Homo sapiens: one gene and its partners. The protein of the gene in region 2 purifies or fractionates together with the protein of the main gene of each other region. This does not show direct contact. Each region holds a gene or a part of one and is shown on either strand. Other genes may lie near its edges.

The links.
Region 1: the proteins of ASNS (region 2) and SCPEP1 fractionate together in Homo sapiens (co-fractionation; one large-scale study listed by BioGRID). This does not show direct contact.
Region 3: the proteins of ASNS (region 2) and GDA fractionate together in Homo sapiens (co-fractionation; one large-scale study listed by BioGRID). This does not show direct contact.
Region 4: the proteins of ASNS (region 2) and CBS fractionate together in Homo sapiens (co-fractionation; one large-scale study listed by BioGRID). This does not show direct contact.

The regions. Positions count from the first base shown.
Region 1 is NC_000017.11:56,991,631-56,995,130, forward strand, and holds part of SCPEP1 (retinoid-inducible serine carboxypeptidase precursor), read left to right. Parts: intron 1-3,350; coding exon 3,351-3,388; intron 3,389-3,500. UniProt on the Homo sapiens protein: May be involved in vascular wall and kidney homeostasis.
Region 2 is NC_000007.14:97,851,177-97,855,408, forward strand, and holds the end of ASNS (asparagine synthetase [glutamine-hydrolyzing]), read right to left. Parts: coding exon 4,177-4,232; intron 3,579-4,176; exon of another isoform or gene 3,505-3,578; coding exon 3,404-3,504; intron 2,211-3,403; coding exon 2,129-2,210; intron 2,040-2,128; coding exon 1,884-2,039; intron 1,293-1,883; coding exon 1,083-1,292; 3' UTR 501-1,082; downstream 1-500.
Region 3 is NC_000009.12:72,155,940-72,159,439, forward strand, and holds part of GDA (guanine deaminase), read left to right. Parts: intron 1-2,880; exon of another isoform or gene 2,881-3,074; intron 3,075-3,500. UniProt on the Homo sapiens protein: Catalyzes the hydrolytic deamination of guanine, producing xanthine and ammonia.
Region 4 is NC_000021.9:43,055,764-43,058,835, forward strand, and holds part of CBS (cystathionine beta-synthase), read right to left. Parts: coding exon 3,071-3,072; intron 2,645-3,070; exon of another isoform or gene 2,528-2,644; intron 2,491-2,527; coding exon 2,382-2,490; intron 1,125-2,381; coding exon 1,040-1,124; intron 337-1,039; coding exon of another isoform or gene 295-336; intron 1-294. UniProt on the Homo sapiens protein: Hydro-lyase catalyzing the first step of the transsulfuration pathway, where the hydroxyl group of L-serine is displaced by L-homocysteine in a beta-replacement reaction to form L-cystathionine, the precursor of L-cysteine.

The sequences.
Region 1 (3,500 bases), on a different chromosome or scaffold from region 2:
AACTCAGAAGTGTGCAGTTTTGTAATTGAGCATCCGTGTTGCGAGCATAAATAAGAGTTGTTTATGTTGCAGACACCCAGGGTGTGGCCCCAGACATCTGAAACAATCATCCTGGTGGCGTTCACTCTAACACAGGGTTTCTCAGCACTGTTGACATTGTGGGTCATATAGTTCTTTTTGTGGGAGGCTGTCCTGTGCATTGTAGGATATTATCAGCAGCATCCTTGGCCTCTACTCAGGAGATGCTAGTAGCACCGCTCCAGTGTGACAACCAGAAATGTCTCCCTGGGGAACAAAACCATCCCTGATTGAGAACCATTGTTCTAACCTAACAAAACGTGATTTCCCCAGGCAAAACCAAACTATCGAGTTAGAAATCAGAAGAGAGGCTGCCTAGGGGCAAAGGAGGGAAATAAGCAGGAAAGGTACATGAGGGAAATATATCTTGATTGCAGGGGGTGGTTACACGGGCATATGCATTCATCAAAACTCTTCTGAAGGTACACTTGTGATTTGTGATTATGGCTCAGTTTTTTAAAAATAATCATTTATAAAAGGTAATATTTACCCCTAAAAGATAGGGATTTGCTTGTTACAGAGCCATATTCCCAATAACCATTACGACTTGGAATAGTATTTCTTGCCCTCATGTTTGCCATCTGCAGGGTAGGACTGAAGTAGCATAAAACTGAGTCAGCATGAAGAGGAGGGCTGCTATTCGTTTATCTGTCTTTCCTTCCTGGATGGATCTCGTAGGACATCATAAAACTGCAGAAGCTTAGAGAAGCATGAGAGTTTCTTGTCAGATACTGCTCTTTTGTTCATGTTGATGGCAAGACAAAGTCTCCATCAGGTCTTGCAACCCAGAGGTGTGCTGTTTCATAACTGAGCATCCTCACTGGGAACACAGATAAGAGTTGTTTATGACTCAAAATTATGATGCTGGCCCTCTCACTTCCTCATGGGGTCTCCTCAGTTTCACAGTAGCACTAAGTACTTTACATGTGCTAACTTCATGTAATCCTTACAACAACTCCATGGGATGGATGCTATCATTATCCTAATTTTGTAAATGATGAAACTGAGACTTAGAGAGGTTAAGCAACTTTCTTAGAGTCACCTAGCTAAATGGTAGAACTGGGATTCAAATCCAGGCAGCAGGTACTGGAATCCAAGCAACCTAACCACCTTGCTACATTGTCTCTCCAAGATCAGTACGTTTCGCTTCCTGGCTTTGCAAGTGTTATTCATTGTGTTTGGAATCTACCTTTTTCTCCTTGCCGTGACCCACTTTACCTTATGAATCTGTTTGTCTGGATCGTAATCCATCCTTCCAGATCCACTTTAAGTATTGCCCCTCTATCCCAGAAACATTGGTTTTTGAGGGAGAAGTATTGTTAATTTCCATGAACAATTGTTAATTGCTTGCTAGGTAGTAGATACTGTTCTAGGTGCTAGGAAAAGATACACAGATAAGCTCCTGATCTTCAAGAAGGTCTTGATCTGCACTGTCACTAAGCCCATGTGACCATGTCAGTATGGTAACCACTTGCCACATGTGACTATATAAATTTAATTATAATTTTTAAATACAATTTCATTTTTTCAGGGGCACTCTCTACACCCAAGTGCTCCATAGACACATGTGGCTATTAGCTAGCATTTTGGACTGCACAGATACAGAACACTTCCATTACTGTAGAAAGTTCTATTGAACAATGCAGGCCTACTTCAAAGATTGGTAAACAAGGGCCCATGAGTCAAGTCTGCCCTGCCGCCTGCTCTGGTAAATAAGTTTTTGTTGTTTGTTTGTTTTTGTTTGTTTGTTTTGAGATGGAGTTTTGCTCTTGTTGCCCAGACTGGAGTGCAGTGGCACGATCTCGGCTCACTGCAACCTCCGCCTCCCAGGTTTAAGCAATTCTCCTGTCTCAGCCTCCTGAATAGCTGGGATTACAGGTGCCCACCACTACGCCTGGCTAATGTTTTTGGTATTTTTAGTAGAGATGGGGTTTCACCATGTTGGCCAGGCTGGTCTCCAACTCCTGACCTCAGGTGATCTGCCCACCTCGGCCTCCCAAAGTGCTGGGATTACAGGCGTGAGCCACCGCACCCAGCCGGTAAAAGTTAATTTACTGTCTATGGCTGTTTGGAGGCTGTAAGAACAGAGTGGAGTAGTTCAACCGAGATAGGCTGGCCTACCAGGCCAAAATTATTTACTATCTGTCCCTTTACAGAAAGTTTACCAGTCTCTGGCCCAGATCAAACAGGAAGTGGGATGCATTGGAGAACTGCAGCCAATCCTGTGTTTTAAGAAACTAAGAAACAAGTTTGAAGGTTAAGCCCGGGAGGTGATTAACAGCTAGGCCACGGAAGTCCTGGTGTGCTTGCATTTCTCAGAGAGTACTCTAAAAGAATACCAGTCCAGGCCAGGTGTAGTGGCTCACATCTGTAATCCTAGCACTTTGGGAGACCAAAGCGAGCAGATTGCTTGAGCCCAAAAGTTCGAGACCAGACTGGGCAACATGGACTTAGTTCCTGCAGAACTAAGACTACTTGAAACCTACTTTGAGACACTTTGCCTTAAGGAGCCATTGAATACTTTTAAGCTAAGGAGAGACATACTCAAATGTGCTTTATAAGTTGAGGTCCTTGATTCTTTGTTGGCGTGTCTTTCAATAGCACTTGTCTTACCTAGTGATACAGTATTTAATAGTTGTGAGCTTGTCTAAACCAAGGTCAACTACTATTCTCTTTGAGGACAGGCATTATGTTACTCACATTTATATCTTAAGCTTTTGCTGCCTCTAGACCCTTAGTAAATTCTCAATATGTTTGTGGGATGGGAATAAGCCAATTGGCAATATAGCCATTTGCACTGTTGCAAACTCATTAGTCATCTTCCTTATTTAGCTCCTTGGCAGAAGCTAATATCTCCAAACTGGAGGAGCAAATAAGATGTAGAGCAGAAATGTGAGGGTGGGGAAATATTTTAAGCTGTCAAAAGGCCTAGAGGTCCACAGATAAGAGCCTCCACCTGCATACCTACAGCCTGCCTGTGGGGATGCTGTCATCGGCAATGACTCACTTGCTGGACCAGTATCAGGCCAAATTAATGTGCCATTAGTCTTAAGAGTCAACAGAAAGGCCCCCACACCCTTATCCCACCTTCCAGACACTGAGACATCAGCCCGCCTCCTGCATGGGTACAGGTGAATTGAGGAGCCTTCCAATCCAAAGCCACCGGGTTTCTTGCTTCTGTCTCTTTCTTCTTTAGAGAGAAGACAGTAGGTTTGTCTTTGGAAAGACAGAGGTATGACATACTTGATTTGTACATATGTGATTTCCTTTAGATTCGGTGCTCTCCTGGGGACCTTACCTGTACAGCATGGTAAGTAGATACACATCTGCACCCTCTGGGCAAACAGCCCAGCAGATCTCTTCTGGCTGTGACCCCAGGAAAAGAGATGCTGGATGAGTTTGCCTATGTGGTTGACACTGCT
Region 2 (4,232 bases):
TATACAAAAATTAATTCAAGATGGATTAAAGACTTAAATGTTAGACCTAAAACCATAAAAACCCTAGAAGAAAACCTAGGCATTACCATTCAGGACATAGGCATGGGCAAGGACTTCATGTCTAAAACACCAAAAGCAATGGCAACAAAAGCCAAAATTGACAAATGGGATCTAATTAAACTCAAGAGCTTCTGCACAGCAAAAGAAACTACCATCAGAGTGAACAGGCAACCTACAGAATGGGAGAGAATTTTTGCAATCTACTCATCTGACAAAGGTTTAGACTTTCATCAGAAATGCTTAGTTAGCTTAGTTGTTCCTCTAGAACAGCAATCAACTAACTATGGCCCACAGGCCGTATCTGGCCCACCATCTGCTTTCATAAGTAACTTTTAATAGAACATGGCCACGCTCGTTTGTTTACATATTGCCTATGTAACTGCTTTTGCACTATAATGGCAGAGCTGAACAGTTCCAAAAGAGGTCCACAAAGCCTAAAATATTTACTATCTGGCTCTTTATTAAAAACAAATTAAAAATTCAAAAAAAGCCTGACCCCTGCTCTAGGACAAGTCTCCAGAAGTGGCTTTGGCTCAACATAAAAGAGAAAAAAATGAACTACTATCTTGCAAAATAGAGCTGTGATGAACTCCTATAGAAGATTCAAGTCTGAGTCTGCCTAGGCAGCTGTTAGGAATGTAGGCAGAACAAAAATAGTGTAGTCCTTTGATGACGTCCCTAAGATGAGGCAAGGACTGGAAGGAAGCCACACGGGCACAAGATGCAAATGTCATCTAAAGCAGCTCTGCCAGGAGAGGGCTGTGAGTTCTTGCAGACATCTGATCATTTTCCCTTTTCCTAGCTTACCCTCCACTTTACTGTGATACAGCAAAACAGTTCTAGTTACCTCTTATGAAGAGACTGCATGAACATAAATGACTACAGCAATGGTTTAGATTTAGGACTTTTATTTTTTTCACACCCAAGTTAGCCTGAGTTGACTCTCATTGTTCCCCTATCTACCCACAGTCCCCATCCAACACGAAGAAATATTTGCTTTCACATTACAGCATAAAGACCACCTAAGCTTTGACAGCTGACTTGTAGTGGGTCAGCGTGCGGGCAGAAGGGTCAGTGGCATTGATCCACTTGGGCATCCAGTAATGGCTCAGCCAGTCAGCCCGGCCTGGGTAATGGCGTTCAAAGACTTGACGGTAGTAATATCCTTCTTTGGTTTTAGGAGTATTGAAGGGAAATTTCTGGGCTGCATTTGCCATCATTGCATCATCAACCTGTAAGAATAAGCATATAAGAGCAAAATGGCTTAAAATGGCAGGAAATACTTGTGTTTAGTCTCATTTCACGAAACAGAAAATGTTAAGACGTGACTGTAACTTGTATGAGACCCTTTGAATCACCCATCACTTAGAAAATGCTAAAGTATTCATAATATGGATAGCTGCAGTGCCTTTTAAAGAACACTCATATGCATATTTTTAATACTTGGTGGCTCTGTTTTAGTCATTTGTGCCTAACAAGATCTGGCACCCAGCAGGTGCCCAAAAATCTGATAAATGAAAATCAGTGATGATTAGTAGTAAGTCTCCTCTCTCTCTCGATTCTAGATGCTACTTTATAATCCTTCATGCTACTTAATTCTTACGTAATTCTTACAAAAGAGATAATTGTTTACAGAGACTCTGAATCTCTCTGATAGGGACATCCTATCAGAGAGATATCTGATGTATGTATCATTCAAACTAAATACATGTATCATTCAAACTAAATACATGTATCATTCAAACTAAATACAAAATGAACAGCAATGACAGCTCTGCATCCAAACTGTCTTATTCCTGAAAATGTTTTTAAAGACATTATACCTGATGTTCAACGTATTCCTGTAAAATCTTAAACCAGGAATTCTTAACTGAAGTTATTCCATCACTGAAGGCTTCTTTTGGTCGCCAGAGAATCTCTTTGGGTATCAGATTGGAATCCTCAAACGTCTCTCTCAGGAGATGTTTTTCTATCCCATTCTGACGTGACAAAAAAAGGAGCATCAGGTAAAAATTACAAATATAATCTGATGGCAATGGACAGTTTTACCTTGAGTTGATTTACCTACCTTTGGAATTCTCATTTCTGGTGGCAGAGACAAGTAATAGGAAGAAAATCGATGATCTAGAAATGGGACTCTCAGTTCAAGACTTAAAGGAGAAAAGAAGAAAATCTAAATTAAAATGGGTATTTAGTGCCTGCCAGGTTAGGTTCTGATTCAGTTTCCCATCAATTCAACCAGATCTTAAGAAATGTTAAGGTCATACAGTCACATACAAGCCTCCTAATGACTGCCCTACACTAATGAATAGATACAAAAAATAAATCTTCATTTAAAATAATACATATATCATGTCATCTAGGGAGTAAAACTAACTGAGACTATTACTTTTACTTTCCCTTCTAGGAATAGTTAAATGCATATTTCAAAAAGCAGAAAAAGTTACAAAACATGAGTGACCCAATCATTAAGAAAATACCTTGCCTAGACCTAACTCAGTGTTTACTAGGTGAGACCATCTCTTCTAACAATTGTGATGACGATACAGTATTTTTTTGCCACTGATTAAAAATTCACATACAATATGCGATATAAACCAGTGTCCCACTATATTTCATCAAATTCCAAATCACCGGTTTCCTGAAGCCTAGTGACTCTAGTTAGGACAAGCAGAGAGGATAATGACCAGATTCAGTTCATTCCTCAAACCCATATTTAATTATATCCTTATCTAGGTGTGATTCAGCAGAGGCAACTAAGACATTTAATGTCAGTTGTTTATCCTGTACAGTAAAAGTCTTCAGTTCTTCAACATAACTTTAGACAACTAGAAATGATAACCAAAGAAACCTGGTTCTTTATAATGTAATCAAACCCCTTGTATCTTCACTACTCTATTCCCTCAGGGTCACTACAGCACCACATGGGCATGGTGGGCACTCACTACTTGTCACATGATGTTTACGATCTTTACTTCTCTTTAAAACACTTAACGGTAGCTGCTGTAGCAGCCTTGCCTCTTCCATCTTGGTTGTTCAGATGTGAGCAGAATGTTGTTACCCTTTAAAGGTGAAAACTCCACCTCAAACAACCTATGGAAGAAGACTTCTCTCCATATACCACAACACCACTTTGAAATGTGGCCTAATCCTTTTGGGACAAAGTTAAGAAACAGCTTCATTTTCTCTATAAAAGTCACACTTTGTAACATATAGCCAACTATATGTAACATATAGCCAATCAGCTATTGATTTTTATTTTCTCAGGGTATTGAGCTTTTTGTTTTGTTTTGTTTTTGGTGTTTTTTTGTTTTTGTTTTACAATAGCCTCTAAAAATATTACCCATGGGCAGCAGTAGTTCGATCTGCGCGGAGAACATCAAACAAATAGAGTTCCCTCAGAAGCCTCTCACTCTCCTCCTCGGCTTTTTCAGGAGAAGGAGCCTATTTCACAAACAAAAACACCAAGAGTTTTGCTTTTGGCACACAAAGCAGTTTTTCTTTCTCCCTCTCCAATCCTAAAGGTGGATAAGACAAAAAGTTAAACAAATTTAGGGAAGGGAGTAAATAACTGAACAGAGGTAAGCAATGCTTCACAAAACATGCCTTCCTTCCTACCAAACTGCTAATATTAGAATAAAATGAACACAATGGGCAACAGTCATAATTCCACAGGATGCTAAGAAATGGCAGAAAGGGGATTCTCAAGCTTAAGTAGTTTTATTTATTTATTTTTAACTTTTTTTTTTTTTTTTTTAAGAGACGGGGTCTTACTCTGTCAACCAGGCAGGAGTGCAGTGGTGCAATCACAGCTCACTGCAGCCTCAATCTCCTGGGTTCAGGTGATCCTCCCACCTCAGCCTCCTCAGCAGCTGGGGGTATGAGCATGAGCCCTCATACCCAGCTGTAACTAGTTTTAAAGAATAAAAATTATCTGACACATTAAAATTTCTTTCTTCCCCAAGAGATAGAAAGCAAACACTATCAGATTCCCTTTTGTAACCTCACAAGATACTCAAAAATATCACTGTCATACTGAAAGATGATAGAAAATAGTCAAACAATTCATACTTTTCTTAATATAGCATGAATATCCCTCCACTTCAGAGTGGTTACCTTGTGAAAATATATGTAACCCTGCGTAAGTTCATCTGATCCTTCTCCAGAGAAGA
Region 3 (3,500 bases), on a different chromosome or scaffold from region 2:
ATAAAATGGATTAGTAAGTGTAAAATATATAGAATAATGCCTGGCATGTAGTACATGTCCATTAGACTTCAGCGGTTATTGTCAGTAATGCAGATGGAGAGGTGGATAGAATCAGTAGCTATTTAGATCAAGTTGACTGGATTTGATGATAGCTTACATATGTAAGGTTGGAAGGTAAGTGCATCAAGAGTGATCGCAAAATGTATGTAAATGTGTGTAAATAGTACAGTGGGGCACAAGTTGACCAGTGATAGGAAAAGCTTCTTGAAGGAAGTAGTAGCTGAATTGGACCTTTTAGGACTGGAACATGCAAAAGAGGATTATATAGCCCTGGTGAAAAGAGTGACCCAATGTTCTTCAGTTCTGAAGACTGCTGGGAGGAGGAAGAGTTCTTTCTCACCTGAGGCTACTTTACCAGAAGTTCTCTCAGTCTAAATCACAAATCCTAGTGATTGTGTATCATCCTTTCCTCCACTTCCTGCCAAGCTCAGCAACTCAAAATATGCTGTTGGTCCTGAGAAAGGAAACTGGGCTAATCCCTTCCTTCTGAGGCTGCTGAATAGGAGCTTGGCTTTCATCAGAAAGATGCTTTCACTCCCAATTATTACAAGATCATCTTGCAAATTCCCATTTTCTAGAAGGCTGATTGCTTGTTCAGAATGCTCATGGCAAACACTGTTGGTTACCCACTCAGCAGTCATGACCTCTTTTTCCTTATTAACACCTGAATTTGATCAGTCCATGGTAGACTCAGCCTGTGGATACATCATGGTGTAAGCCAGTCATGGTAATCCTATCTCCATTTATCAGATACTTATTCTTCCAGCTTCCTGGTAGCTGAGGGTGACTAGTGATAATATTCTGACATACAGGAAGTTTGCTCAGAAGCTTCTAGGATGTGGGAAGAGAAGCCCTGCCTTTTTTGGATACTCTCATATGAAGAAAAGATACTTGGAACTGCTGCTGCCACCATGTGAGACTGTGAGGAAAAGGTTAAGGGGATTTCAGAGACACCATCCCATTTTCTAACATCACTGAGCAGTTGAACTACCCCTACCTGGAACTGTCTACTATCAGACTTCTAGACTTCCTTTTTTTTTTTTTTTTTTTTTTTTTTGAGATGGAGTTTCACTCTTGTTGCCTAGGCTGGGGTGCAGTGGCGCGATCTTAGCTCACTGCAACATCCGCCTCCTGGGTTCAAGCGATTCTCCTGCCTCAGCCTCCCGAGGAGGTGGGATTACGGGCACTCACCACCATGGCCAGCTAATTTTTTGTATTTTTAGTAGAGATGGGGTTTCGCCATGTTGGGCAGGCTGGTCTTGAACTCCTGACCTCAGGTGATCCACCCACCTTGGCCTCCCAAAGTGTTGGGATTACAGGCGTGAGCCACGGTAGCCAGCCCAGACTTCTTTTGTGAGATATGAAATGTCTTTATTGTCTAAATCTCTGTTAGTTGGGTACTGTTCATTGCAGCCCAATGCACCCTCATTACTACACTGCTTTTCAATGAACAATATTTTACACTTTACAAGAATAACTACCTTCTCCTTCTTCTCCTTACTGGCCTTTCCAGGCACCCATATCAATAGTCAAGCCCAGCCAATTTTCCTCTGGGATTTCTGTGTGCATATTCACTTCCATTGCCCCCATCTACCCTTTAGTGTCTCTGAGCTAAAATATAACAGGAGACCCTTAACTGTTTTCTCTCATTCTAGTATTTCCCCCACATTACTGAAAACTCTTTTCTTGGACCATGGGTAGTATCATGTATCTACTCTTCTATAACCATCTATGGCTCACTATTGCCTCTAAGTTTCAAATGTCCTGGAAGATGTTCTAGGCATGACATTATTTGGCCCCAACCTGTTCTCTAATTCTTTCTGTTGCTTCATTTATCTGTCTGGCAAGTGGGAATAGGATTACCATGACTGATTTACACCATATTGTATCCATGAGCCAAGGGATGTCTATCCATGCAAATTTCTCCCTGTTTTCCAGCACATCATGTCCTTTTATGCCTCCACATTGTTGGCACCAATTTCTTTGCCTGGAATAGTCCTCCTTTTTATATCCCCATTTCCATTTTACTTCTATCAAAATGAAATCTTGCTCTTCCTTTAAGGCCCAGCTCTGATCTTCTCTTTTTCACAAAGGCTTTCACAAAGGCTTTATTCCCAAGTTGAAATAAATTGCCCCTTCCTCTGTTCTTCCATAAAATTTTTCATATATTTCAAATCAGTATTTTACAGGTAGTTAAGAACATGGTTTCTAGAGTCAGATTATGTGAATTCAAATCAAAACTCTGCTACTTACTAGGACAAATTTTCTGACATAGCTGAACCTCAGCATCCTCATTTAAAAATGTGGATTAAGGCTGGGTACAGTGGCCCGCACCTGTAATCCTAGCACTTTGGGAGGCCGAGGTGGGCTCATCACGAGGTCAGGAGATCGAGACCATCCTGGCTAACATGGTGAAACTCCATCTCTACTAAAAATACAAAAAATTAGCTGGGTGTGGTGGCAGGCGCCTATAGTCCCAGCTACTCGGGAGGCTGAGGCAGGAGAATCCCTTGAACCCGGGAGGCAGAGCTTGCAGTGAGCTGAGATCATGCCACTGCACTCCAGCCTGGGCAACAAGAGCGAAACTCCGTCTCCAAAAAAAAAAAAAATGTGGATTAATAGCACCTTGATAGAGTTGTGAGGCAAGTGAGATAGTGTGTTGTTATTATTTTTCTTTCTCTGAAGTAGTTATTCCAATTTGCCTTTGATTATACTTAGCTTTATAGAATGTTCTCACTCACTGAAATGATTTAAAGTTTTTGGAAAAAGAGAGATGAACTGGAGAAAAGGTAACACTTACTAAGTCATACTGTATTTCAGACAGTCTGCCAAATCCCTTACAAATCAACAACCTTGAGACAAGGTAAGGACACCATCATCATCATCATCATCATCATCATCATCATCTCTACTTTACAAATGAGGAAACGGAGGCTCGGAGAGTTACTTGGCTGCAGTCACAGCAAATAAGTGGCAAAGGCAAGACTCAGAGCCATGCCTGTCTGATGTCCAAGGTCCGTGCTCTCCAGGAGTCTCTGCTGTCTTCTGTCATGGAGAGGGCCAAAACTCTATTGTCCTAAGGCCCCTTCAACATTTCATGTTGTTTTAGCACAAAGTAGGTGGTCAGTAAAGTGTGTTGAATGTGATGTGTAATACAAAAACGAGGCAGGCAGATCACAAGCTCAGGAGTTCAAGACCAGCCTGGCCAACATGGTGAAACCCCGTCTCTACTAAAAATACAAAAATTAGCCAGGCATGATGGCAGGTGCCTGTAATCCCAGCTACTCAGGAGGCTGAGGGGGAAGAACTGCTTGAAACCAGGAGGTGGAGGTTGCAGTGAGCCGAAATTGTGCCACTGCACTCCAGCCTGGGTGACAGAGTGAGACTCCGTCTCAAAAAAAGAAAAAGAGAAAAAAAAATGAGTGATAGAACAAACCTTT
Region 4 (3,072 bases), on a different chromosome or scaffold from region 2:
GGCCGTGCCGTCTCTGTTATGAGCACGCAGCCCTGACGTGCTTGAAAGCAGCCACAGACGGTGGTGACAAGCGTGGACATGCTCCAGGAAGACTTGATTTGGGGACCCTGACATTGGAATTTGCATCTTTTTTTTTTTCTGAGATGTTCAAACACAAGTAAATGTGAGATTAAGAGGGGGATCCCTCCTACCCAAGCTTGGGGGTGGGTCCAGGACCCTGGAAGGCCTCCATTTGCCATGGGGAGGCTGTGAATCTGAGCCTGAGAGCCATTCTGAGGGGTGGGTGATACCTACCTGCAGGCCCCCCCACCACGCCTGCCCAGGCCTGGTCCTGCGCTGCAGAGCCAAGGACGGGAGATGGGGTTAGACTTGGGGCCCTCACGGACCAGCCTCAGCCACCGAGCGCTCACCCCCTGCACACAGGCCTGGTGGGTGGGCAGGCTCCAGGCTCCAGGGCCCCTCCCAACTCTTCCTGTGGGCCCCAGGCCCAGGGCTGCCATCTATGACCCAAAACCTGCGAGCGACTCTCCTGGCCTGTGGGGATGTGGTGGGGACGCCCGGGGATGCGCTCAGGAGTTGCAAAACCTCATGAGCTTGCTGGGAGCGGGGCTCTGAGGACAGCCCATCAGTGGCTCCTGTGAGACCCACATGAGGCTTCCATTCAGAGCAGCCCTCCGAATGCCAGGGTCAGGACTTGAAACCCTTCTAGATGTTTCTGGGCTTGTCCCTGAGAATCCCCAAGACTGCTGGCCTCCCCGGAGGCAAGGGGCCTGGACTCCTGAGCCTCTGCATGCTGGACAAAGGGCCCTACCCAGTGTGGCCTGATGAGGGGTCCCTGCAGGAATCACAGGTACAGCCCACCAGCCCAGGGCATGTGGGAGGCCCAGGCATAAAGACTGGGTGTCACTGAAGGTCGGCACCACCCACTCCCCTAACACCCCGCAGGGGATGGGGGGCCCAGCTGCTGCCCATGGCAGAGGCCAGGCTTGGTGGCCTGACCCCAGTGAGAACCCCACGCACAGAGCAGGGCCCCACTCACACTGGATCTGCTCGTGCACCACCAGGGCGAAGTGGTCCATCTCCAGGATGTGCGAGAGCCTGCCCAGCGTGTCCGTGAGGCGGATCTGCAAGGGAAGCGTGGTCAGTGGCAGGGGGAACATGGCCCCACGAGTTTTCTGTGGAGTGAGAGGGGATGCGATGGTGGGTCCTGCAAAGCCCACCCGGGAGGCAGTGGCAGCCGAACGTGGGAAATACGTGGATTCGGGTGACGTCTCGGGTGTGTGTGTGAGATGGGAAAGAAGTCGAATTCACTCCTAGGTTTGGGCAGAACCCTCAGCCTTTCCAGTGTCAAGAGCCACACCTGCATGTCCCAGGGGATCCGTGTGGAAGGTCACACAAACTTTCCTGGGCCACCCTCAGGGCAGCAGAGGGTGGGTGTCTCAGGACAACCACGGAGTCTGACCAGCCCGGCAAGGAGCCACCGTGGGCTTCTCCCAGAATGTTCTAGCTCTTGTTGGATAACCAAGTGCATGCACAGGCAAATGAGGCTGGGCAGGAGAAAGACCCCGGCAGACGCCGCATGGTGCCCGGGACAGCCTCTGAGCGCGAATGACCTCCTTAAGTCCCCAAAACACGGCTGGTGTGGATGAGCCTGCACTGATGAGAGCCTGCTCTCCGGCTGCTGCACTTGTAAAGTGGGTGCTTCTCAGCTTCATGGTTTGAGGGGTGCAGCCAGCTTCGGCCTAAGTGGTGTTGAGGGTCGAGGACCCAGCACCCCCACACGGGAAGCGCGGTGTCCCGCCTTCGAGGCTGGAGTACTCTGGCACCCTCTGGGGTCCCGAAGTGCCTGAGTACCTGTTTGAGCCGCGTGTAGGTGACTGCGCACCTGTTTGAACTGCGTGTAGGTGACCGCGCACCTGTTTGAGCTGCCTGTAGCTGACCGGGCACCTGTTTGAGCTGCCTGTAGGTGACCGCGCACCTGTTTGAGCTGCCTGTAGGTGACTGGGCACCCGTTTGAGCTGCCTGTAGGTGACCGCGCACCCGTTTGAGCTGCCTGTAGGTGACCGGGCACCCGTTTGAGCTGCCTGTAGGTGACCGGGCACCCGTTTGAGCTGCCTGTAGGTGACTGGGCACCCGTTTGAGCTGCCTGTAGGTGACCGCGCACCCGCTTGAGCTGCCTGTAGCTGACCGCGCACCTGTTTGAGCTGCCTGTAGGTGACCGGGTACCTGTTTGAGCTGCCTGTAGGTGACCGCTCACCTGTTTGAGCTGCCTGTAGGTGACCGCGCACCTGTTTGAGCTGCGTGTAGGTGACCGGGCACCTGTTTGAGCTGCCTGTAGGTGACTGCGCATCTGTTTGAGCTGCCTGTAGGTGACTGGGTACCTGTTTGAACTGCTTGTAGATGACTTTGCCAACTTGGTCTGACGGCTGCACCTTCCCGGCAAGCAGGGACGAGAGCATGTTCCCAAGCGTCACCATTCCCAGGATTACCCTGTGGGACGGGGGCAGGCAGGGGTCAGCGCTCATACCTCACCCCTCCCAGGACGGTGGGGCACACGCTCAGCTGCCCCAGGGAGGAGCGCTCTCTGGCCACACATGGAAGTCCTCTGCCACGAGCCTACACGCGGCAGGAACCAGTCTGGGCCCTGGTGGGGAGAAAGAAACCAAGAGTCCTTGGACCCGTTCAGCCAGGGTCAAGGGTGACCAGCCGTCAGGTTTCCGCGACGTGGGGCTCTCAGTGGTCACTGGGCATGTGTGCCAAGGCTTTCTGCTGTCAGACATGTCCTCGGGGCATCTCTCCCCTGACCTCCAGGTGGGCCCAGGACAGCCTGCACACAAAGGGTGGGTGGGCTGAGGTCTGAGGGCCTGGAGTGAGCACGGCAGCCCTGCCCCAGGCTGCTCAGGGACCGGCAAGGGGCCTCCAATGCCCTGAACGTCTGTATGAGGCGGCCCAGGCGGGCCTATCAGCCCAGCTGCAGGGTCTGCATGGCTGCCCTGTCCAGTGACACTGACGGGGTGGAGCTGGGCAGACAGAACCCAGGACTGAGCTCTGAGCAGGGGCTGAGACTGACCC